Regions from separate parts of the Homo sapiens genome. Here regions 2 and 3 are each linked to region 1. Evidence: fine-mapped expression QTL. A gene starts in region 1. Each other region holds a variant in brackets. All regions are shown on one strand. Distances are from middle to middle. Region 1 holds the start of CITED2 (Cbp/p300 interacting transactivator with Glu/Asp rich carboxy-terminal domain 2). Region 2 has its middle 67 kb from the start of LINC02941. Region 3 has its middle 130 kb from the start of FILNC1.

Region 1 (7,834 bases):
CCCCGCAAAAATATCTTGGAGATATGTTGGAGTTCTAACCTCCAGAATATGACCTTCTTTGGAGTCAGGAGCTTATAGAGGTGATCAAGTTAACATGAGGCCAGTAGGAGAAGCCCTAATCCAAAAGGACTAGAGTCCTTGTCAAAAGGGGAACTTTGGACACAGAGATACACATACAGGGGGGCGGGGGGTGGAAAACGTCACATGAAGATGAAGGTGGGGATCAGTGTGATGCATCTACAAGTCAAGGGACACCAAAGATTGCCGGGAAACCACCAAAAGCCAGGAAAGAGACACGGAATAGATTCTCTCTCACGGTCTTCAGAACCAACCCTGCCAACAACTTGGCCTTGTACCTCTAGCCTCCAGAACTGTGAGACAATAATGTTTTGTTGTTTAAAGCTTGATCAGCCTTAAGTTTGTATTAGACTGGTGCAAAAGTAATTACAGTTTTCGCCATTGCTTTCAATGGCAAAAATCACAATTACTTTTGCACCAACCTAAATAGTACTGTGTTATGGCAGCTCTGGGAAATGAATACAACCATTCAGTGCTGTGAGGGCCACAGACAGATCACTTGCTCGCTCACCCAGGTTCACGGGATAAACCCTGGTTATACGGAACTTCTGGGAGCCCTGGGTTACTGTAAGTGCCCCCTAACTGGACTCCCTGTTTCCTGTCTTACTTTCTCTAACCATTCTCCACAGTACTGCCCTGATCTTTCTAAAATCCAAATCTTTCCTATCTCATGGCTTCACAAGCTTTTACCTGCCTCCCAATGTCTTTGGGATACAGCAAAATTTCTCAGCTTGAGGCCACAATGCCCTTGGCATCCGGCCCCAGCATATTTCTCCAACCTTATTTCTCTCATCTTTGCATTCACTCCCTAGCCATACATTTTCTACCCCACTCCTAATGGGACCAAACTTCCATTCATCCTGAGGCCTCCACTTAGTCACCATCTCCACCGGAAAGCCTTCCCAAAGCACCCAGGAGGGGGGTAGGTGTCCCTCCTATGTGCTCTCCAAAGCCCTTTCCTTCAATGCCTTTGTGGCATTTATCACAGTGTGTTCAAGGCCTGTTTGTCAGTTTTCTCCCTGTGACCATGAGTTCCTATCTTGTTTGTATCTCCAGGCACCAAGAAAGCACTTGGCACTTGGAGGACATTCAGTGGACGGATGAGAATAAATGAACAAAGCATGCCATGTTCCAACCAGCTGGTCCCAGAACTATTTTGTTCTCCTTTAAGGGATGGGGGATGGGCAGGTGACCTTTCCAGGGATTTCCCAATAGTAGGTAGAACCACTGGAGCTGGATGGAGCTCCACCTTTCCTTAGTGGTTGCAAGAGGAATTTAGATTAGACATTCAAAAGCTGTTTCTTGTGTCGAAAGACACTTGCAGTACAAAGAAGGGAAAGTAAACAATCCCGCGATTTTTCAGGTTGGGTTTTACCAATATTTTAGAATCTGTTTTTTTATAGGAAGTGGCCCCTTCAGGTATCCAAGCCTCTGATACGGTAAACTGCATGTCCTGACCTACAGGTAAAGGTGGTGGGAGGTTAGGAGAATAGGGAATTGTTGCAACTAACAATGCAATGTGTCATGTGCCCGTATCTCTAAAAAGTAAATATTTTTGAGGTTTAAAAATTATTTGCCTGCACGGTTTGCCGGAGAGCCTGGAAGAGGAAAGAAGACAAGACACAAAGTAACAACATTTACAAAAATATGCCTGACTAGGAAAAGACAGAGGGGTCATAGACGAAAATAATCAGGATTGGGTCTCTTTTGCAAATTCCTGAACGGGGAAATGTATCAGAATTTCCAGTCCTCAAGAAACAGGGCCTTTAAAAGTCTTGTGTGCAAGAAGGGGGAAAAAGACGAGGGGGGGGCGGGGAGGCGGACTCGCTCTTCGCAGCAGGAAGTCTTCAATGGCTATCGAGTTATGAAGAAACAACTGCCCAGAAGTCCTTATTCGGAGCGCTAAACTCGATTTTACCACATAAAGAGCAATGTAAAAGCTCAGAACAGCCCCATCATGGTGTTGGGGAAACAACTCGGCTTCCCCATGTGAGAAAGCCAGAGAGCTCCGACTTGGTAGTAGCCCAGACCTGTGTTAGGGGTTTTATTTGCAAGTCAATGAACCAAACGGGCGACCAGGCTCGTTGTGCCGCGTTGTGGAAGCAAGGTTATTATTATCGCCCATTGCCCCACTGAACAATTTCACTGAAAAGGAAGAGTCCCAGCCGTGTGTGTGCGCGTGGTGCCATACGGGACGTGCAGCTACGTGCCCACCTCCAGAACGACTTTATTTACAAAGCGATTACCACGTTATCTATTTGTTTTCCTTTTCCAGCAAGAGCAGCCTTACTCAGCCCTCAAATTTCTTAATTACAAACCCGTTTGCTTCTAAATCAACCCCAAACCGTCAGGCAGAGCCCGGAGGGAGGCTCTGCAAGTTTGTACACACCCCCACCTCCCGGATCCAGGGCAACAGCAGAAGCAAGTAACTGTGTATGTGCAAAAAGGTGGATCTGGGGACGAGGATCGCTGAGTTTGTTTACAGAGCAGAGACGCCTCAGCTCGGATGCCAAAGCTACCAAGAGCTGCAAACGCAAACTTAGCAGAAGCACACGTACCCCGGGAGCGGCAGGCGGGCCCGAAAGCGCGGACTGGAATTCCAGGGCGCGGGAGCGGGGGTGGCCGGGCCCTCGAGCGCGCTCCGTCCACCTGCAGCGGCTGCCCCTCCCCGCCCCCAGCTCCTGTCCTTGAAAGGAGTGGAGGAAAAAAATGCATCTACAAGCGGTGATCTAGAGTAGGTCTACCCACTGCCCGTATGAAAACACAAAGGCACAGCCTAGGAAGGCGCGCTCAGGAAAGGGCGCATTATTTGTCCGGGTCTTTAAAACCCAACTCGAGGAAGCACAGCCATTCTTCGCTGCCTGTGGAAGCTTTTGCAAAACCGGGGAGGCACAAGGGCACTCTGGAGGGCGGGGGGCGCTGGGCGAGTCCCCTTTTCCCGTAGAGAGCGGGGCAGATCGCTAGGTGAACCGAGTGAGAAAGCTGGGGGTGGGGTAGATCCAGCCTGAGGGGGGCGGTGAGCTCTCCTCGTGGCTATCCCGGCAGGCTCTACCTTCGGGCGGGGCGGCAGGGGAGGATTTTCCCCCTGCCTCGGGGGTGGCTGAGCCAACCTCGCGTTTCTGGGCCGGGAAGAAACCAGAGTCGGGGGGCGACGGGGCGACTGGGCGGCCCCCGGGCCCCGCAGCCTCTGCAGCACGTGCCGCGGGCGGCGGGGACGCGGCTCCGGGACCCGGTCCAGGGTGTTCGCGGTGTTCCGGAATCCGCGTCTTGGCGCCGCCCGCCCTGGAGGCTCTCGCTCCGCCTTTCCGAAATGCCTATATTAACTGTGGCCAAAGCCCTAAGAAACACAGCTCATTGTTGGCAGCTGCCGGGCGGTCCTGCCGAGCTGTGAGGGCAACGGAGGGGAAATAAAAGGGAACGGCTCCGAATCTGCCCCAGCGGCCGCTGCGAGACCTCGGCGCCGACATCGCGACAGCGAAGCGCTTTGCACGCCAGGAAGGTCCCCTCTATGTGCTGCTGAGCCGGTCCTGGACGCGACGAGCCCGCCCTCGGTCTTCGGAGCAGAAATCGCAAAAACGGAAGGTAAGCGCGACGGGCGAAGCTGGCTGGGGCTCTTGCCAGCCCAGTCCTCCGAGGGCAGGGTTTGCCCGGAGGAAGAGCGTGAGGCGAAGCTGGGGAATAACAACAGGATGTGCAACAACAGGATGAGGAGGGCTGATTTAATGCCTGAAGTTCGCAGCAGGGCTACGGGGCACTTCCTTTATTAGGCCACTTCGGGGAGCAAAGGGGGTGTGGGCTCGGGTCCCCCCGCCCGATCGCAGGGGAAGGGGCTGTTTGTGCAGCGTCCGGCTGTGTTATGAGTGGTAGCTCTTCCGTGGTGGCTAGCCCGGGTGCACAGGCTGTTAGTGGGATCTTGGGGGTGGTGGTTCGCAGCCGACGTGCGCCCGGGAATCCTGGGGGGCAGAGGCGAGCAAAAGTGGGGTGCGCTGTGGTGGGCGACACGTGTGGCGCGGGTCTCATTATCTGCCCTTTTCACTTCCAGGACTGGAAATGGCAGACCATATGATGGCCATGAACCACGGGCGCTTCCCCGACGGCACCAATGGGCTGCACCATCACCCTGCCCACCGCATGGGCATGGGGCAGTTCCCGAGCCCCCATCACCACCAGCAGCAGCAGCCCCAGCACGCCTTCAACGCCCTAATGGGCGAGCACATACACTACGGCGCGGGCAACATGAATGCCACGAGCGGCATCAGGCATGCGATGGGGCCGGGGACTGTGAACGGAGGGCACCCCCCGAGCGCGCTGGCCCCCGCGGCCAGGTTTAACAACTCCCAGTTCATGGGTCCCCCGGTGGCCAGCCAGGGAGGCTCCCTGCCGGCCAGCATGCAGCTGCAGAAGCTCAACAACCAGTATTTCAACCATCACCCCTACCCCCACAACCACTACATGCCGGATTTGCACCCTGCTGCAGGCCACCAGATGAACGGGACAAACCAGCACTTCCGAGATTGCAACCCCAAGCACAGCGGCGGCAGCAGCACCCCCGGCGGCTCGGGCGGCAGCAGCACCCCCGGCGGCTCTGGCAGCAGCTCGGGCGGCGGCGCGGGCAGCAGCAACAGCGGCGGCGGCAGCGGCAGCGGCAACATGCCCGCCTCCGTGGCCCACGTCCCCGCTGCAATGCTGCCGCCCAATGTCATAGACACTGATTTCATCGACGAGGAAGTTCTTATGTCCTTGGTGATAGAAATGGGTTTGGACCGCATCAAGGAGCTGCCCGAACTCTGGCTGGGGCAAAACGAGTTTGATTTTATGACGGACTTCGTGTGCAAACAGCAGCCCAGCAGAGTGAGCTGTTGACTCGATCGAAACCCCGGCGAAAGAAATCAAACCCCCAACTTCTTCGGCGTGAATTAAAAGAAACATTCCCTTAGACACAGTATCTCACTTTTCAGATCTTGAAAGGTTTGAGAACTTGGAAACAAAGTAAACTATAAACTTGTACAAATTGGTTTTAAAAAAAATTGCTGCCACTTTTTTTTCCTGTTTTTGTTTCGTTTTTGTAGCCTTGACATTCACCCACCTCCCTTATGTAGTTGAAATATCTAGCTAACTTGGTCTTTTTCGTTGTTTGTTTTTACTCCTTTCCCTCACTTTCTCCAGTGCTCAACTGTTAGATATTAATCTTGGCAAACTGCTTAATCTTGTGGATTTTGTAGATGGTTTCAAATGACTGAACTGCATTCAGATTTACGAGTGAAAGGAAAAATTGCATTAGTTGGTTGCATGAACTTCGAAGGGCAGATATTACTGCACAAACTGCCATCTCGCTTCATTTTTTTAACTATGCATTTGAGTACAGACTAATTTTTAAAATATGCTAAACTGGAAGATTAAACAGATGTGGGCCAAACTGTTCTGGATCAGGAAAGTCATACTGTTCACTTTCAAGTTGGCTGTCCCCCCCGCCGCCCCCCCCACCCCCATATGTACAGATGATAATAGGGTGTGGAATGTCGTCAGTGGCAAACATTTCACAGATTTTTATTTTGTTTCTGTCTTCAACATTTTTGACACTGTGCTAATAGTTATATTCAGTACATGAAAAGATACTACTGTGTTGAAAGCTTTTTAGGAAATTTTGACAGTATTTTTGTACAAAACATTTTTTTGAAAAAATACTTGTTAATTTATTCTATTTTAATTTGCCAATGTCAATAAAAAGTTAAGAAATAACTTGTTTTCTAGAAGTCATTTGGGGGTGGTTGTTCCCTTTGGTGGCTTTTTTCCCCCCGTCTTTGAGTTGAACACTATTGATGAGAGTAAGCATTCCAAAGGATAAATTACAGGACACTAAAACAGGTCATGATGAGCTTAAGCGGAGAGCAGGATTTAACATAATTGGCATAATGCTTCATTGTTATCATTGTAACATGCCTCTTGGTGTGCTTTAATCAAAAGCTGCAAAGTTGTCACTGCTTTTTTTTTTTTCTTAATTGCCATCATATCAAGTGTACTCCAGAGTTAGAAAGGTTTGCAATACTCAACATTATCTTTTTCAATGGGCAGGAGGCAAAAAAAATCAAGTGTTTCTGTTTATACCTGATTCAACTACTTAAATAGAGGTAGATTGGAATAATACACTGATTGATTGATGGGTGGCATTAAATATAAATCTACCTTTATCTCCAGTGATGAGAGTTTTATTTCTCAGCAAAAGTGCCAAGGATAGGTACATATTTTCTAGCGTAATCTCTGAAACAGTGTCTGACTGGTTTATAGTTCTGAGAAAGATGAGGCAGAATTCCACTTTGAGGCTTTTGTCCTATAATATTTAAAATGTACTCAGGTTGACTCAAAGGTCAAATTACAGTCTTTACAAGATGTTCCCTCTTAAGCATGCCCTGTTTTCCTGAATTCTGAGTTTTCCTGTTGCATGCATGGGATGCAAATCACCTGAAAATTATACTTTAATTTTACCTGGATAGATGTCTTATCAAGAAGACCATAGCTACAACTAAGTGGGTATCAAGTTTTGCCTTATATAATCAAGCAAAGGAAAAAGTAATATTGTGAAAATCTCAAATTATCCCAGGTGGAAGGAGAAGGAATTTTGTTTTTCATGTTTTCATGGCTTATCTTATGTTTATAAGAGCAACACACCTACCTTCAAGAAAAAATACAGACTTTTGTACGCAACTTACTAGGGGAAGTAAAAAATGTAGGTTGAGGAAAATCTTATAAATAATGCTTTAAAAGAACATTTCATTTAGACTCCGATTCTCATCTTAAATTCCATATTTTATAAGAAATCAGGAGGAGCGGATATTTAGAAGTGTTATGAGAGAGTAAGTTGGGCATAAAGGCTGCTTTAAGTATAATTCAGATCACCTGCATTTTATAATTTTATTTCCAAGGTAGGCCATGTAAAATTAAAATGCACACACTCCACTGGGTTTTTTATATACCTCTATAATTGACACTTTCTTCTTTAAAATTATGTTCAAATAAATATACTGAATCATCCAAAACTCTTTTTACCCTACTTTAAAAGCTGATCCAGATTTCCACATTAATAGTTAAAGCTGAAGTTTTCTTCAGCTAAGACATGTCAATACTAAATCTGCAATCAGCAATGAATCTTTCTGGCTAAGCATTTTCACAGTAAGTTTTTCTTTCTCTCTCTCTCTTTTTTTTTTCCAGAGGCTTAAGTGAAAAAATATGTTTGCATACATATTAATACAGCAACTCCAATCCTTTTTCACTAGTGCCAGGAAAAAAGGAAAGTGATTAAATGCATTTTTTTTTTTTTTTTTGCATAAAGAAGCCAAAGAATTGTCTTGCCACCACCCTTCACCATTTATTCTGCCAGGGAATAAGCCACAACACCTGCTCTGTCACTAAATTCCTCCTGCTGCTCAAACGCCGGAACACGTATGTGGAGATGCAGAGCCCAAGGAACTATTATTAGATCTTGAGCCCATCCCTACCAGAACAGAGGACTCAAACAGAGGAGCTGGGCTAAAAAGCACAATTTGTCTTCAGTACAAATACAAACGCTCCCGCACCCCAGTTCACTTGAGTGATCTCTGTTTCATTAAAAACTCTTTCTTGATCAACAATTGAGCAGATTCTACATGATATCTGCAGGTCTCTTAAGCAGAGAAAAATAACTCCTTGTTTCAACAACCTGATTAATGAAACCTGTACAGTGACCTAGATCACCCGGCTACTGGCAGACATTTGCAAAACC
Region 2 (7,834 bases), 530 kb before region 1:
ATACCTAGTAAGTAAACAAATGAACATGACTGTTTTCTGATAAAAATGTACTTACAAAATACGAGCAGCTAGCCTGAGGACCACAAATTGTTGAACCCTTCTCTAGACCATTTCCATAACAGATCTTCAAAGGCTCTGGGACCCTGCTTTCATACCTCAAAATTAACACTTCATATTTCAATATAGAAACTGAACTGGAAGAGTCTTCTAAACAGCTCTTCTCCTGGCTGCTTTAACACTGATTATGTTAAGACAATGTCCAAATGTCGTTGTAAAAATATTAAGTAAAGTAATACTCTTGATAGTGGCTTTATTTTATGTCAAGTGAAAGGAAATGGTAATTCTTGTGGCAAACCTAAAATAAAAATATTTTAGACAGAAACATTTTGGGAATGTGTTGCCTTTTGGCTTAGAATAGATTAATATCCATTATGGGAAAATTTTTTTCATTGTTTCAGTTACAGCAGTAAGTGAAACACACAAGGTGTATCTCCACATACTCTTCCATTATAACTTCATGAGTAGTCAGTTCTTTTAGCATATGTGAAAAACAGAAACATGAAAATCATTATTTTCTCATTCTTTACATCAAAAATCTATGTTCAGGAAGAAATAGTTAGCTATGTACCTAGTGTTTTAGGAAAAAAATTTACTAGTGTCTCCTTTCAACATAAAAAACATTTTTTCAATATAATTTGGATTAGTAAATATCTAAATACACATAATCTACTAGGCACCGGGAAGAAAAATATACAGTGTTGCCTTTACCAAGTGTTTAAATTAGTGGCAAAACTTAAAAGTTTCTAGAATCTTGAAGAAGAGATGTCTCAGTTGATTTTCCCTCACTTGATCTTCTAACACAAGCTTGTCCAACGCATAGCCACATGCATCCCAGGATGGCTTTGAATGTGGCCCAACACAAATTCATAAACTTTCTTAAAACATGATATTTGTTTGCAATTTTTTTTAGCTCATCATCTATCGTTAGTGTTAGCGTATTTTATGTGTGGCCTAAGACAATTCTTCTTCCAATGTGGCCCAGGAAAGCCAAAAGATTGGACACCCCTGTTCTAACAGGTCTAACTTCCTTAGAAGTCTCCAGGTTTCCAGGGGAGCACCTGAGAGAAAGAGGGGGCAGCCTGATCTGAGAGCTCCCTGCATAAGTGTGGGAGAGGGGAAGAGTTGATCTGAGCACTCATAAGGGTCAAGCTCATTAGACAGAACTATTTTTCAATCATTTTATTTCTTCTTTTGGCTGCAATAATTTTCATTTTTATTTAGATCTTCATTAAAGTTTCAGAAACAAAAAAAAAAGGTTATTTAATAATTTACTGACTCAAACCATCCAAGGCCAACGAATGTCTGCTTTTCTCCAGTACATGTCATTTCCAGGTAAATTAGGTTATGGTACTGTTATGATTTGAATGAGTCCCCACAAAGTTCATGCTTTCGAAGCTTAATCCCCGATGCAACACTGCTGAGAGATGGGACCATTAAGAGGTGACTAGGTCATGAGGGCTCTGCCTTATGAATTGATTAATGCTATTGTGGGAGTAGGTTAGGGATCTTGATACTAGGTTTCTGATAAAAGGATGAATTTGGTCGCTTTCCTCATTTGATCTTGGTCTTGTTTTCTTGAGCTCTCCTGCCACTGGATGACACAGCAAGGAGGCCTTTACCAGATCCCAGCACTTTCGTCTTGGATTTCCCAGCCCCTAGAACGGTGAGGAGTCAATTTCTTTGCTTTAAAAATTACCCAGTCTGTGGTATTCTGTTATAGCATTACAGAATTGTTGGGACAAAGATGGGCACCCTGATCTAGAAGACAAATATACTCTACTAGGAAAATAGATACTTAGTTCTGCTGCTTTTTGGAAAGGTTACTAAAATGCCTATATTGGTTAATTAGTTAGTTAGTTGGTTAGTTAGCTTGTTTAAGTGGACTTTTTTGTTTTTGGGAGTAGCGTTCCTGTTTGCCCTCATTTAGAGTTGTGCTCAAATCTGTGAATCTTGCTATAGTCCAAACTCCCAAACCACTGGATCCTGGCAAAAGAACAGGTATCAAGAGAAAACTTTGAGACTACAAGTTAACAAATGAAAGGTGAGCAGTAAAGAATGGGACAGTCACCTATCATTGTACTACAGTCAGGTTAGAAATCAAGATTGTGAGGTTTTACCTTTTCAGGGAAAAAAATATTCAAAATGAAAATATTACAGGGAAAAACTATACTTTGATAAATAATAGCTTTTCTGTTATTCTGATAAATATTTTACATTTTTCTATATATTATATATTGTTAATCTATAGGAAAAGATTTTATTCAATTTTGAATCAATTCAGTGATTAGAAAAATACTATATTAAGTGTGAAGTTCTGAGATAACTGTATATCTTAAGGAAGATATGAAAGAATTATAATACTTACAGTAATAGTAATTCTTACCAATGCATGAAGCACATAATAGATAGCTGGCAAGTGTTTATGAGATGAATATTGATTTAATTCTTAGTTTCATAAGTGAAAATGAAAAAATATGTGAGTCATTCTAGTTCATAGGTTTACAAAAGACAAATCATCACACTTAAACAGCATAGAGTTGATTAAGCCACTGGACAAGAAAAATAAGGTGAATGTATCTAACCAAGAGGAATAGATATTTGAATAAGAAGTTCATTAGAGTTTACAGACCAGTGACATCACCACTCTTCAGAACACTTCTTTAGGATCATGTTGTTTTCCAAATAGTTTTTTCAATCTTTCTGCCAAAGGTTTTATGTCAGCTTTTGATTGGCAGCTGATGAATCACACCACCTATAATCATATCCTGATTTATCTTGATCTTTATGTAAATAAATGAGGAAAGAGGAGACATGCTTACCATGAAATATTCCAGTAGAGTTTGAAAATGCTTGTTCTCATTGAGCAGTGAATGACTTTGAAGATTAACAAAGCTAAGTACGTAAATGATATCAACATGAGAAACAAACATGAATTCAAAGAATCACGGGATTCTATCAAATTGCTGGTTTGTAGCTAAACTTACATAATTTAGGTAAGAGGAACAATGTATACATGAAATAAAAGACCAAATAAGTTTAGTTATTAATACACCTACTGTAGGAACATTACT[C/A]TAGAAACATCCTATGGAAACCTATTTAAAATGATAGATTAATTCATAGAAAGTATTATTTATAGTCTGAAGTTAGTCGAATAAATAAGCCTATTCTTGTTCTACTATGGATTTTCCTGGGAAATGTATAAAAGGTAACAGATCCTGGCCAGGTGTGGGGGCTCAAGCCTGTAATCCCAGCACTTTGGGAGGCCAAGGCGGGCGGATCACGAGGTCAGGAGATCGAGACCATCCTGGCTAACACGGTGAAACCCCGTCTCTACTAAAAATAGAAAAAATTAGCCTGGCGTGGTGGCGGGTGCCTGTAGTCCCAGCTACTTGGGAGGCTGAGGCAGGAGAATGGTGTGAACCCGGGAGGCAGAGCTTGCAGTGAGCCAAGATCAAGCCACTGCACTCCAGCCTGGGTGACAGAGAAAGACTCCATCTAAAATAAAAAAAAAAAAAAGTAACAGATCCTTAGTGAATAAATTATTTGGAAATGCCATGTAGGTGGTTCTTTCAAAGAAGTCCCCAACAATATACACGAGACCTGAACAAAATTTAGTAAAGATGGATTTTAATTTAAAGCATAAACCAGCAAAATTTGGTAAAAACTTGAACCTAATTTTGTAGACATAGTCATAATGGCTGCAAAAATAAACTATGGTTGGAATCAAATTTTAAAATCAGTGTAAATGTGTTAACAACTAAAAATTAGAGGCAAAACTATCAACATTTATGGTATGTCCCATTATACTTTATGTGGCAGAAAATAAAATGATAAAAATAAACATTTCTCTGATTTAAACAACAAAAGTCCTGTTCACTTGGCCCAATCCAAAGTGTCCTTCTTGTTAAAGTAGATTGCTGAACAAAACTTTCTCAGCAGGATTGGAGATTTATGTTTGTTTTAAGTGACACGATGTAAACAGATTATTAAAAGCAGAACTATTTAATAATGAGTAGAGAATCAATATGAGAGTATTTAACACAGCTTTTTTTTTACTATTTTCACTCTTTCCAGTTCTCCACGATAATATATTAACATGGACCTTTGTAAATATCTTTTAAAGTATAACACTGCTTTATTACCGTCTACATATTACTATAGATTTGTTAAATATTACAAATATTGATACTTTTTCTCAGATGTCTAGTAATTGACATTGAAAACTAATGCAGTACATTTTGGTTCAATTGGTGTTTCTCTTTACATACATTTACTCCCTCTATTTCACTGTTTCCTTATGGGAGAAATAGTATTTTTTTGCAACCTAGAAAGATGCAAATCCACGTGTGGAAATTTTTAAGCAAAAGCTCACAGTTGGTAGTGAGCAGTCTTTGTGTTATCAGCAACCTAAGGACACTTCAATGAAGTTTTCAGTCACAATATTTAGAGGGAATTTATCTTATTTTAAAAAGTTTTGGGGTATTTTAAAGTTGTATATTTAGATCCTTCTTAATAAAGCACATATTCCTATGATACTGAAATTATTAGAAAAATAGCTATTACTAAGTGTATGCTATTTGAGAATTGAATTACAAAATTAATCCCATAGGATGTAGAATTAAAGAGCAACAATTATCTGTAACAAGTTGTAATTCCACTACGGACCTTGATAATATTTTTTAAGTATTGAAAATAAATCCAAAGCATATTTTTAAAACAAATAAACAACAGAAAATTGTAAAGGTCAGATTATAGTATTAAGTCATAAATGAAATCTTCACTTGATATAGTGATAAACATGTTTATTTAGAAATGTTTTTCTATCTTTTATTTTTGTTTCTTCTACTAGACTTTTTTGTCTACTACATTTTCATCTATTGATGCTCACTTGAGCCCTTTGTTGTATGTCTTACTTAAAAGATAATTATCTTCTTAAGAACTAAATGTCACTGAAAGCAAATTTATTCTGAGATCATATAACCAACCTGTCTTAGTCTGTTTAGTGTTGCTATAAAGGAATAACTGAGGCTGGATAATTAATAAAGAAAAAAGGTTTATTTGGCTTACAATTCTGCTGGCCGAAAGACTGGGCATTTGGTGAAAGCTTCAGGCTGCTTCCACACATGGCAGAAAGCAAAGGACAGTTGATATGTGCAGAAATCATATGGAAAGAGAAGAAGCAAGAGAGAGAGCTAGGGAGTTGCCAGGCTCCCTTTTTAACAACCAGCCCTCATGGGAAGCAATAGAGTGAGAACTCACTCATTAGCATGAGGATGACACCAAGCCATTCCTGAGGGTTCTGCCCCCATGACAAAAACACCTCCCATTACCCCCCACCTCCAATATCAGGATCAAATTTCAACATGATGTTTTGGGGAACAAATATTCAAACTATAGCACAACCACTACCCAATCTGCAGTGGTTGTGTGTGTATATACCCAGAAGATACATCACAATAGAGAGAAAGAAGAGATTCTAGTTTATCTGCCACTAACACATTTGTGATCTTGGTCAGCTTCTTAACATCTGAGTCTCAGTTTACTCATCTTTCAAAGGAGTTTGATACTCTAACTTTGCTTCCAAGTTCTGATATTCTGTGATCTTATCACAGTTGTTTAACTTGCCAAAGTATTGATACTAGTGGTATGCCAATAACAATGTTGAGAAATAACCTCACACAAAACATCACAAACTTAATTATGGCTATGAAGATCATATACCAATGGTAGGAATAACTGGAGATGTTTGCATGAAATAGAACTTTGGTAAAATGAAATAAAAAATGTAATGAGCTGTGTAGTACGCCAGCACTGTCCATGCTGTTTAAGGCACACAATGCATTCTGATTCAAAGTGAATATAATTAACACTGTCATCAGTAACTGAAGTTCTTATTTTTTAAAAAGAAGACCGTAACAATTTATTTATGTTACATCAGAATCTAGAAGAGTTCTTTATACAGTAGGTACTATGTAAGTATTTTTAATCAATTGGCAGAGGGCATCTAAATAGGCTGACAAATTTGCACAGATATTAAGCAACTGACAGGGCAAACGTAGGCAGTGATATGGTTGGGCTATGTCCCCACTCAAATCTAATCTTGTATTGTAGCTCCCATAATCACCACTGTGGCATGGGAGGGACCTGGTCGGGGGTAATTGAATCATGGGGGCAGTTTCTTCCATGCTGTTCTCATGATAGTGAGTGTTCTTACAAGATCTGATGGTTTTATAAGAAACTTTTCCCCCTTTTGCTCAGCACTTCTTGCTGCCACTGTGTGAAGAAGGATGTGTTTGCTTCCCCTTCCACCATGAGTGTTAAGTTTCCTGAGGCCTCCCCAGCCATGCTGAACTGTGAGTCAATTAAACCTCTTTCCTTTATAAATTACCCAGTCTCGGGTATGTCTTTATTAGCGGCATGAGAATGGACTAATATAGGCAGAAACCCACTAAACCCAATAGGCAACATCTGAGTCTTTAATATAAAATGTGCTGTACTTGCAAAGCAGTAGAAGCCATTGGGCAAAAATTAGCTTCTAGGTCAAAACCTAATGCTTAAGACATAGTCAGGAACAGAAGTTTGATACATGAAAGACAGCAATAGTGTTGTAGGTCTATATTACTGTTGCAGAAGATGACTCTAAGTACCATTCGATAAACTTATTAAAAACTATCAGGCCTCCCATGACATTTTATATTCTCATAAAACAACACAAATGCTAAATTAAGTTTGAATTTGAATTAGCAAAGAATAAGAAAATCAATTTAAGTGTTCCCAATGCACCTTCAACCCTTGCACCCTTGCTTTGCATCTGTATATTTCATTAGTATATTTTGTTACATGATCATGTAATATTTATGCAGTAACATAATATGCTCTGTACATCTACGATTAGAGAAAAAGTGCAGTTCTTTTCCATTATTTTGTGCCCTTTATCTGCTGAACACTATGTAACATTACCCAGGGTTTGGTGATTATGTAATGAGGACTCCTATTGTAATACACGCTGCACAGTTGGAGGATTGCTGTGGGAAACTTAACTCTGCAAATCCTGAGTTTGGGAACAATTAAAGCCTTGATTTTAATGTTACAGTCACCTCATTTTTCCCAAAATATTTTGCTTTTTTCTTCTTAAAACCTGTAAGTACTGCAGTAGAAGAAATGTAACAAGAATTATAGAAAAAAGTTCCACAGAAGATGAAATAACTGCCATCTGGTGCACAACAGATGTGTGTTCCACAAAGTTTTTTTTTCTTTCTTTTGAGTTCTCCTATCCAAGTCCTGGCCAGACCCAAGCACTGTGTCGAGCTTATGAGATCTGACAATTTTACAGCCCCAGGCTGAATGACTGCAGGCTAGTGTTTTTCCTAGAATTCACTGAGGCCCCAGGGAATAAACTAACAGGTTCAAGAATGATACTGAAATGTTATTCTCCCCCAAAAAGCTGTGAGGAACTGCCACTAATTTCCTTCATAAGAAATAAAGTCCAAAAAAATTTCAATAGAGGGTCACTACAGATTTTGTGCCTTAGAAGAGAGATATTCAAGACTTGGTATCATTAGCAGATGCTCTCCCAGTCCCAGAGAAAGGAATCACCTGGAGGGCACATTGTATCTTTTATCCAAGTAAAATTGGCCCAAACTGTTTACCCAACATTTGCACAAGTGCAACTTTACTGAAACTGATAAAACTACCTGCTCCCTAGCAGCCTTCACAGTTCCTGAAATTTCTAGGGCTGGTGATTTCTATTAGAAAGTACTGAAACACGTGAAAA
Region 3 (7,834 bases), 260 kb before region 1:
ATGCTTCATCTGGGCTCCTGGGCCTCAAGCCCTGGTGCAGAGCCCCTGCCGAGGAACTTGGCTTTAGACATTGGGGTAGGCATTAGGCATAGGGAGGGTTTCCCAAAGAAGAGAAGAAAATCCACCTTTTTCCTTTTTACCATGTTAAGACTTGCTCTAGGGAGAGGCTCTAAAGAAAAAAATGAGGCTGAGATCTGAATTTCCAAATAATTAGTCCCAAATTCTTTACCTCTCGTGCTGAGAAATAGAGATGGTGACTTGGATTTCACTTACCTCCATCCCTTTAGGTTAGAAAGGTTCAAAATATTGCCCTCAGTTAAGTCACTGACCTGTTTCATGGATAGCAGATGGACACTAATTCAAAAATTCAACTAAAATTTTTGGCTCAGTTCTTGTGCCTCCCTTACAAGGTCTTCAATCCCTCATCCTGGTGAATTTATCAGGATCCAGCACATTGCTGGGAATCTAGCCAGCTCAGATGTATGAATTGTCAGCACATCTCTTTTAGGAACTACTCACATTTACCAAGCTTATGGGATAGACACATAAACCTGATGCCAATTTATTATGCGTGATGGGCAATGATCATCACTGGGACTGAAGGACTTCAGGTTCATAGGTACATTTCTCATGGCGGGAGAAATGTGTGCCAAATCACATTGCAAAGTTTGCTTGGTGGCCTGGAAATCAGAACAAAGAGACTTCAAGAAGCAGATAATTGCATGAGGTTGAGATGACCAGATGCAACCATTCCACAGCAGAGTGGTATGTTGGTGGACCCTTCCAGGATGCACGGTCCTCGGATGTGTAGACAGGCACCGGTAAGGTTGCATCCAAAACTCTTCTTTTCTACTTTCATGGTTGACCAATGCTTTTAGTTGTATTTTTTGCCCCTGATATATGATAATACATTTTATTCATTTCAATCAAATCTTGTAAACCTAGGAGCCACTTTATCTTACTTAGATAACTTCCTTTCTCAGTTTTTATCTATCATTTGTTTATCTTAAAAGTAAATTTTCTGATAATCTTATTTTGCTCTTAGAGGAATCCTTTCCACCCTTGTAGAAAAACCCCCATGTAAACCCTTATACACTAGCAACACTATGCATTTTAATATCATTGGTGAACAGAAAGAATACGAAAGGCAGAATATTAAGACCAAATAACTTTTCCTGGGAAACAAAGAATTCAATACTGGTAGAATATATCTATACTTTATTGCTCATTCATTTACTCACTTGTCATTCCGCAGGCATCTATTATGAACCTAATATTGGCTACACATGTTGTAGACACAAGGAAATAGAAATGAACAAGACAGACAAAGTCTCTGCTTCCATGGACCTTAAATTCAAGTGAGAGGCAGGGAGACAGACCGCAAACAAAACAAAATGAAGTAAAATAGGAGGAAGTGGCAAGTGCTCTGATAAAAATAAAACATGTTATGGAGTGATTGGGTAGGGTGGTCAGAAGAGTCCTCTCTGAGGGAATGATGTATAAACTGAGCCCTACATAGCAAGGTGGAAATAGCTATATGTGAATCATGGAAAACAGCATTCCATACAAAGGATACATCTGGTGCAAGCCATACGTCTATCTATTATGCTAAACATCTTCCACTTGTGAGAATTTCTATAGGCAGAAATTGCATTATAGATATTCTCTAGAACATTGAGAAGTTAGAGCCTGAATTTTAGATGCCTGTTGAGTCTGGATATCTGGATATAGTTTCCATCCCTGGAAACTATAAATGTTGAGACAAAGCAATTTTGGCAACTTTCCCATGTTATTCACCAATCATTATATATGATACATGATGAAGATGGTAAAAGAGAAGTTCATATTCTTTGGCTGTTTTCCTGTTGTTAAACTCCTCCCTCCTCCACCAATAGCCTTAAAAGCTCGGCACGAAGCCAAATCAGTTCCAATGCGTCTACCAAAGTGTCGATATTGACCATTGATTCTCTCACACATGCATTTAATTTTCTGAACAAGGAGAGACTTGCTTGATTGGATTTTTGTTCTTTCATTAACTCTTGGTCCTCACAACAGTACCAAAAAGGAGCAAAAGCTATCAAGTTTTGGTGCCATGCTTCAATAGATATTCCATATCCAGATTCTAGCCTCCGGATTTTAATAACTGGGGTCACGCTGAGTTCTCATTTCTCACATAAAATTGCAGGAGACAAGGAAGAAAAACAAATACTAGGAAAACAGAGTAGATACATTTTTAGTGCTCTGAGTTTTTTATGTCAATAATATCTAGTATCGAGCTAAAAGCAGCCCTTGTGAGAGGAAAGGGAGTGAGTATTTTGTCATGGTCAGTCCACATAGTAACAATGTCTTAGCCTGTGGTTTGTGGGTTTCCTTTGGTGTATTCTGTGTCTCTAGATACTTCGCTGTTGTTTCCTAATTTAAAACTCAACATCTTAAAATGCTCTATGTTTTCCTACTAAGTGTAAGAAAATACTTCAAATGTTCTAGTTTAATACCAATTTGTTATTTAAAAAAATTCAAACTGATAGTTTAGATGCTTATTTCACAAACATCCAACATCTTCATCAATCATAGTCACTTTTTTAGGACATTGTTACTGTCATATTAAAGTGTGATGGAATTCACCAGACACAAACCTCTCCAAGTATCTACAAGAGTGATATTCTGATGGGAATTAGCCACCACCATTAGAATGATTGAACCATTCTAAGATTCTATGTTACCAGATAATAGGCCATAAACCTCCAAGTTCTTCTGTACACTCACCTTTTTTTTTTTTTTTTTTTTTTGAGACAGAGTTTCACTCTTGTTGCCCAAGCTGGAGTGCAGTGGCACTATCTCGGCCCACTGCAACCTCCGCCTCCTGGGTTCAAGTGATTCCCCTGCCTCAGCCTCCCGAGTAACTGGGATTACAGGCGTGCACCACCACGCCTGGCTAATTTTTTGTATTTTTAGTAGAAACAGGTTTCACCATGTTAGTCAGGCTGATCTCGAACTCCTGACCGCAGGTGATCCACCCGCCTCGGCCTCCCAAAGTGCTGGGATTACAGGCATGAGCCACCACGCACTGCCACTCATCCTTTACTTCTACATAACAAGATGTAGTTTTGTTTACTCTTCATTAGAGCTTCAACCATAGTGAACTGAAATTTTGCTGGGCCTACACTTGTATTTGCATCAGTTATATAAGTCATCCTTCCCTACTTATGTGCCTCTCTGACTCCTTCTTGAACAGCTAAAGTGTGATAAGCAGCGGCAAAGCCTTTCTAAATCTACTCTGGAGTACTTAAAACTGGACTTTATATAAGAAGTAACAATGTCTTCATCATTCTTTCCGAGAACTTCACAGGAAATTTAAAATTCCTCTTGCGTAACATTGAAATAATCAGACTGTCACTTCAGTCGGGTAATTCAATTTTGTATTTAGCAATTAAATAAAAATATTTAAACGTAAAATTTACAAACACACATGCTTGGTCAAATGGACTTTATCTGAATCTTCAATAATTAAGTTGCTTTATAAAATATCCAGATTTTCAGCCTAGGAAAAGATACAAGCATTTCAAGACTAGAGAATTGTGAGAGCAATAGAAATATTTATAAATAAATGTTAAAAGTGAATATCCAAATTAGAAAATTAGAAATTCAGGCATCAATTTAAAGTATCTATCTAAATTGACAAGGCCTCACTCTGTAGCCCAGGCTGGAGTGCAGTGCCACAACTGTAGCCCACTGCAGCCTCAAACTCCTGGGCTTAAGTGATCCTCCTGCCTCAGCCTCCTGAGTAACTAGGACTACAGATGCACACCACCATACTCAGCCAATTTTAAAATTTTTTTTATAGAAATGGAGTCTTGCCATGTTGACCAAGCTGGTCTAAAACTCTTGGCCTCGAGCAGTCTTCCTATCTTGGCCTCCCAAAGTGCTGGGAATACAGGTATGAGCCACCACACCCAGGCATCTCCTTTTTAGAAATTTTAAAACTAGAATATTGCATTAGCTTTCCTGTGCTTCAACTGATTTACTAAGACCTTGGAGAAGTCCGTTTTCTTCAGAGGCAACTTATTTCCATTTATGAAACAGGAATGGGAAATAGCTGTAAACAGATCTGTCCATAAAGCTCTGAAATTACTTCAAATGAAGGAGTCACATAATCAGAAAACCCCCCTAGTGGTGTTGTTTTTATTAGGTGACCCCAGAGAAGCACTTTTAATGACTACAATTCAATCTCCTGTTAGACACTGGAAGATACTGTCAACACAAACGAGTATTGAACTCCAGTCTGGGCAGGCCTATCTCATTCGTTGCCAGGTTATCAGAGCATTTCTCA[A/G]GGAAGTGCGTTGACTCTTTCAAGGGAAGTGATATATTGAATGGGAACTTAGTAACCCATGTGAGTAAGTATACACTTTCAGGCGCCTCAGCAAATAAGAAAAACACTGGGCCACTGAAGGCAACTTGTGTCTGATCCTGTATTCTTGACTTTGACATCATGCTACCTGCTGTGGTTCCTGAGTAGGCTTTTCACCAAAACTCTTCTGGCTTCTCCCCTGAGAGTGGCTCAAAATGCTTAAATGTGTGAAGGCTCTTTATCTACCCCAGCCCTACCTTTATCTACCCAGCCCCTCCTTCTGGAGTTCATTTTCCCCTGCACAGAAGGTTGACAATCAAACTGTCCAATTTGTGGAACAAACAGGTTTTCTTATTTGATAAATAAAGCTCATTCTGATTTATACGTCCAATACATTATTGTGTTCTCAGTATATATGGACTTGCCACAGGTTAACAAACACTGATTGAGCATCTCCCATATGCTAAGCATTTACCATCTTAGAGTAAGGTTGTCTCCTTATGATGCCTCCATGTAACACTTTATATCTTTCAAGTAGAATTTAGATTTTTCTGCCTTATCCACCAAGTGTTGTGGTAAACAGAATTCTAACATAACCCACAGACCCTCATTGTCATATGATCCTTTCTTCTTGAGCATGGAAAGAACCTATAAATACTGTGGGATGTCAGTCCCATGATTAGGTCACATTTTTTGTCATAGTGTCATAAACCTAACCTGGCATAATCAGTGAGATCTTAAAATGGACAGGGTTCTTCCTAGTAAAAGGAATTCAGAGTTTCAGAGCAATTCTCCATTGCTGGCTCTGAAGAGGGAAGAAGAACATGGCAAAGATGTGAGTGGCTTCTAGGAGCTGAGAACAGCCCCAAAAGTCAGCAAGAAATAGGGACTTCAGTCCTACATTGCATGGAACTGAGTGAGCTTGGAAGAGGACCCAAATCCCCAGATAAGAATCCAGCTCAGGCCAAGCACAGTGGCTCACACCCTGATATGGTTTAGCTGTGTCCCCATCCAAATCTCATTTTGAATTGTAGCTCCCATAATTCCCATGTGTCATGGGAGGAACCCAGTGGGAAATAATTCAATCATGGGAACAGGTCTTTCCTATGCTCTTTCCATGATAGTGAGTAAGTCTCAAGAGATCTGATGGTTTTATAAAGCCCTTACACAGGCTATCTTGCCTGCCACCATGTAAAACATCCCTTTGCACACAGAAAAAGCACCTTCATAAGATCCTAAAATCAAGTGAGCACTCATAGTAGCTGATTTTAACTTCATATGACTGAAGAAAAACACTGGAAGAGTGAAGGAAAGACAGTCTTGAATTACCAATGCTACCTCTCCCCCATCCCACAGCAGTGACTGCATGGCACAAAGAGAGAATCTGTGCAGTTAAGAAAGGGAGAGTAAAGCAGCTGTGAAACATTGCATTGAATTCAGTACTGCCCTGTCACAGCAGAAAGCAAATCTGGGCTCAACTCAACCGATGCTCGCCCACCTAGGGTGTATATAAATCAGCCCTAGCCACAGTGGAATTGTTCATCCTAGAAGTCAGAACTTGAGTTCTGGCAAGTCTTGCCACCACAGGCTAAAGTGTCCTGGGGCTCTAAATAAACTGGAAAGGCAGTCGAGGACACAAGGACTACAACTCCTAGGCAAGTCCTAGTGTTAAACTGAACTCACAGACAGTGGACTTGGGGGGCACATGACCTACTAAAACATCATCTGGGCTAGCTAAGGGAGTGCTTGAGCCATCTCTCTCCCAACCCCAGGCAGTGTAGCTCACAGCAATGAAAGCGACCCCTTCCTTCTGCTTAAGGAGAGGAGAGTGAAGAGTAAGGAGGGCTTTGTCTTGCATTTTGGATACCACCTCAGCCACAGTAGCATAGGACACCATTCTGAGCCATAAGGCCCTCCTTCCAGGCCCTAGCTCCCAGACAACATTTCTAGACACACTCTGGGCCAGAAGGAAATCCACTACCTTGAAGGGAAGGACCCAGTCCTGGTAGGACAGATCACCTACTGACTAAAAAGCCCTTGGGCCCTGAATAACCAGCAGTGACTCCCAGGTAGTATGCTGTGGGCCTTGAGTGAGACTCTGAAACTTGCTGGCTTTGTGTGACACTCAGCACATTCCCAGCTGTGGGAGCTACAGGAAGAGTCTCCTGCTTGAGAAACGTGGAAGGAAAAGTAAGGGGACTTTGTCTTGCACCTTAGGTACCAACTTAGCAATAGAGGGTTAGAGCAACTTGCAGGCTCTTGGAGTCCCCACTTCCAGGCCTTGGCTCTTGGACAGCATTTCTGGACCTGCCCTGGGCCAGAGAGGAGCCCACTGCCCAAAAGGGTGATTCCCAGACCAGGCAGCATTCACCAGAAGCTGACTGAAGAATCCTTGGGCCTAAAGGGAATATTGCCAGTAGTCTGGCAGTACTCCCTGTGGGCCTGTGGTGATTATGACCACAGGGTGAGGCTCCTCTACCTGTGGAAAGGGGAGAAAAAAGTGAGGACTGCATCTTGTTGTTTGAGTGCCAGCTCAGTTGCAGAACAAAAAGAACACCAGGTAGACTTCTATGATTTTTAACTCCAGTAGCTCGCACCCGAGCAGCACCTCCGGACCCACCTGGGCTCAGGGAGAACTTGCCTCCCCAAAGGGAAGGAAACAGGCCTGGCTGGATTTGCCAGCTGTTGACTGTAGAGCCCCAGGGCCTTGAGTGAACGTAGGCGGTAGGCACGTAGTGGTTACAGCAGGCCTGGAGCAAGACCCAGTGCTATGCTAGCTGCTAGCTTCAGATCTGACCCAGTGCAGTCCCAGTGCTGGTGGCCACAGGGTTGCTTGTGTCACCCCATCCCTAGCTCCATACAGCTCAGAAGAGAGAGAGACACCATTTGTTTGGAGGAAGTAAAGGAAGAGAACAAGAGTCTTTGTCTGATAATCCAGAGATTTCTTCCAGATCTTATTCAACACCATCAAGATGGTACCTCTATGTATCTGCCAGAACCACAACATTGCTGAATTTAAGGTATTCCCTAATGCAGATATGGCTTCGATTACAACACCCAAGTCCTTTTGAATACCTGGAAAGCCTTCCAAGGAAGGACAGGTACAAACAAGCCTAGACTGCAAAGATTACAATAAATACCCCATTCTTCAATGCCCAGACAAAGGTGAACATCTACCAGTATCAAGACAATCCACGATAACATGGCCTCACCAAATGAACTAAATAAGGCACCAGGGACCAATCCTGGAAAAATAGAGATATGTGACCTTTCAGACAGATAATTCAAAATAGTTACTTTGAAGAAATTCAAAGAAATTCAAGATAACACAGAGAAGGAGCTCAGAATTCTAGGAGATAAATTTAACAAATAAAACAATTAAAAAGAATCAAGCAAAAACTCTGAAGTTGAAAAATGCAACTGACATATGAAGAATGCAGTAGTCTCTTAACAGCATAGTTGATCAAGCAGAATAAAGAATTAGTG

Evidence for each region. PIP is the estimated chance that this variant, and not a neighbour inherited with it, causes the effect. A credible set is the group of variants that fine-mapping cannot tell apart.
Region 2: its variant is the best candidate, but not a certain one, in a credible set for the expression of CITED2 in nasal epithelium (TOPMed, PIP 0.70).
Region 3: its variant is the best candidate, but not a certain one, in a credible set for the expression of CITED2 in whole blood (INTERVAL, PIP 0.85).

What each region holds. Positions count from the first base shown.
Region 1 is chr6:139,370,239-139,378,072 of GRCh38, reverse strand. CITED2 (Cbp/p300 interacting transactivator with Glu/Asp rich carboxy-terminal domain 2) reads left to right here and starts at 3,425. Exons shown (of 2, transcript NM_006079.5): 1 at 3,425-3,660; 2 at 4,121-6,266. The coding sequence starts at 4,129. The coding sequence ends at 4,941. RefSeq lists silencers at 1,027-1,321, 2,577-2,886, 3,057-3,436, 3,897-4,046, 4,617-4,716 and enhancers at 3,587-3,756, 4,267-4,326.
Region 2 is chr6:139,905,068-139,912,901 of GRCh38, reverse strand. No RefSeq gene overlaps it. Among named protein-coding and RNA genes, the nearest start is that of LINC02941, 67 kb to the left of the region's middle. The variant C/A (reference allele first, on the strand shown) is at 3,132.
Region 3 is chr6:139,635,165-139,642,998 of GRCh38, reverse strand. No RefSeq gene overlaps it. Among named protein-coding and RNA genes, the nearest start is that of FILNC1, 130 kb to the left of the region's middle. RefSeq lists silencers at 2,334-2,433, 2,747-2,914. The variant A/G (reference allele first, on the strand shown) is at 4,331.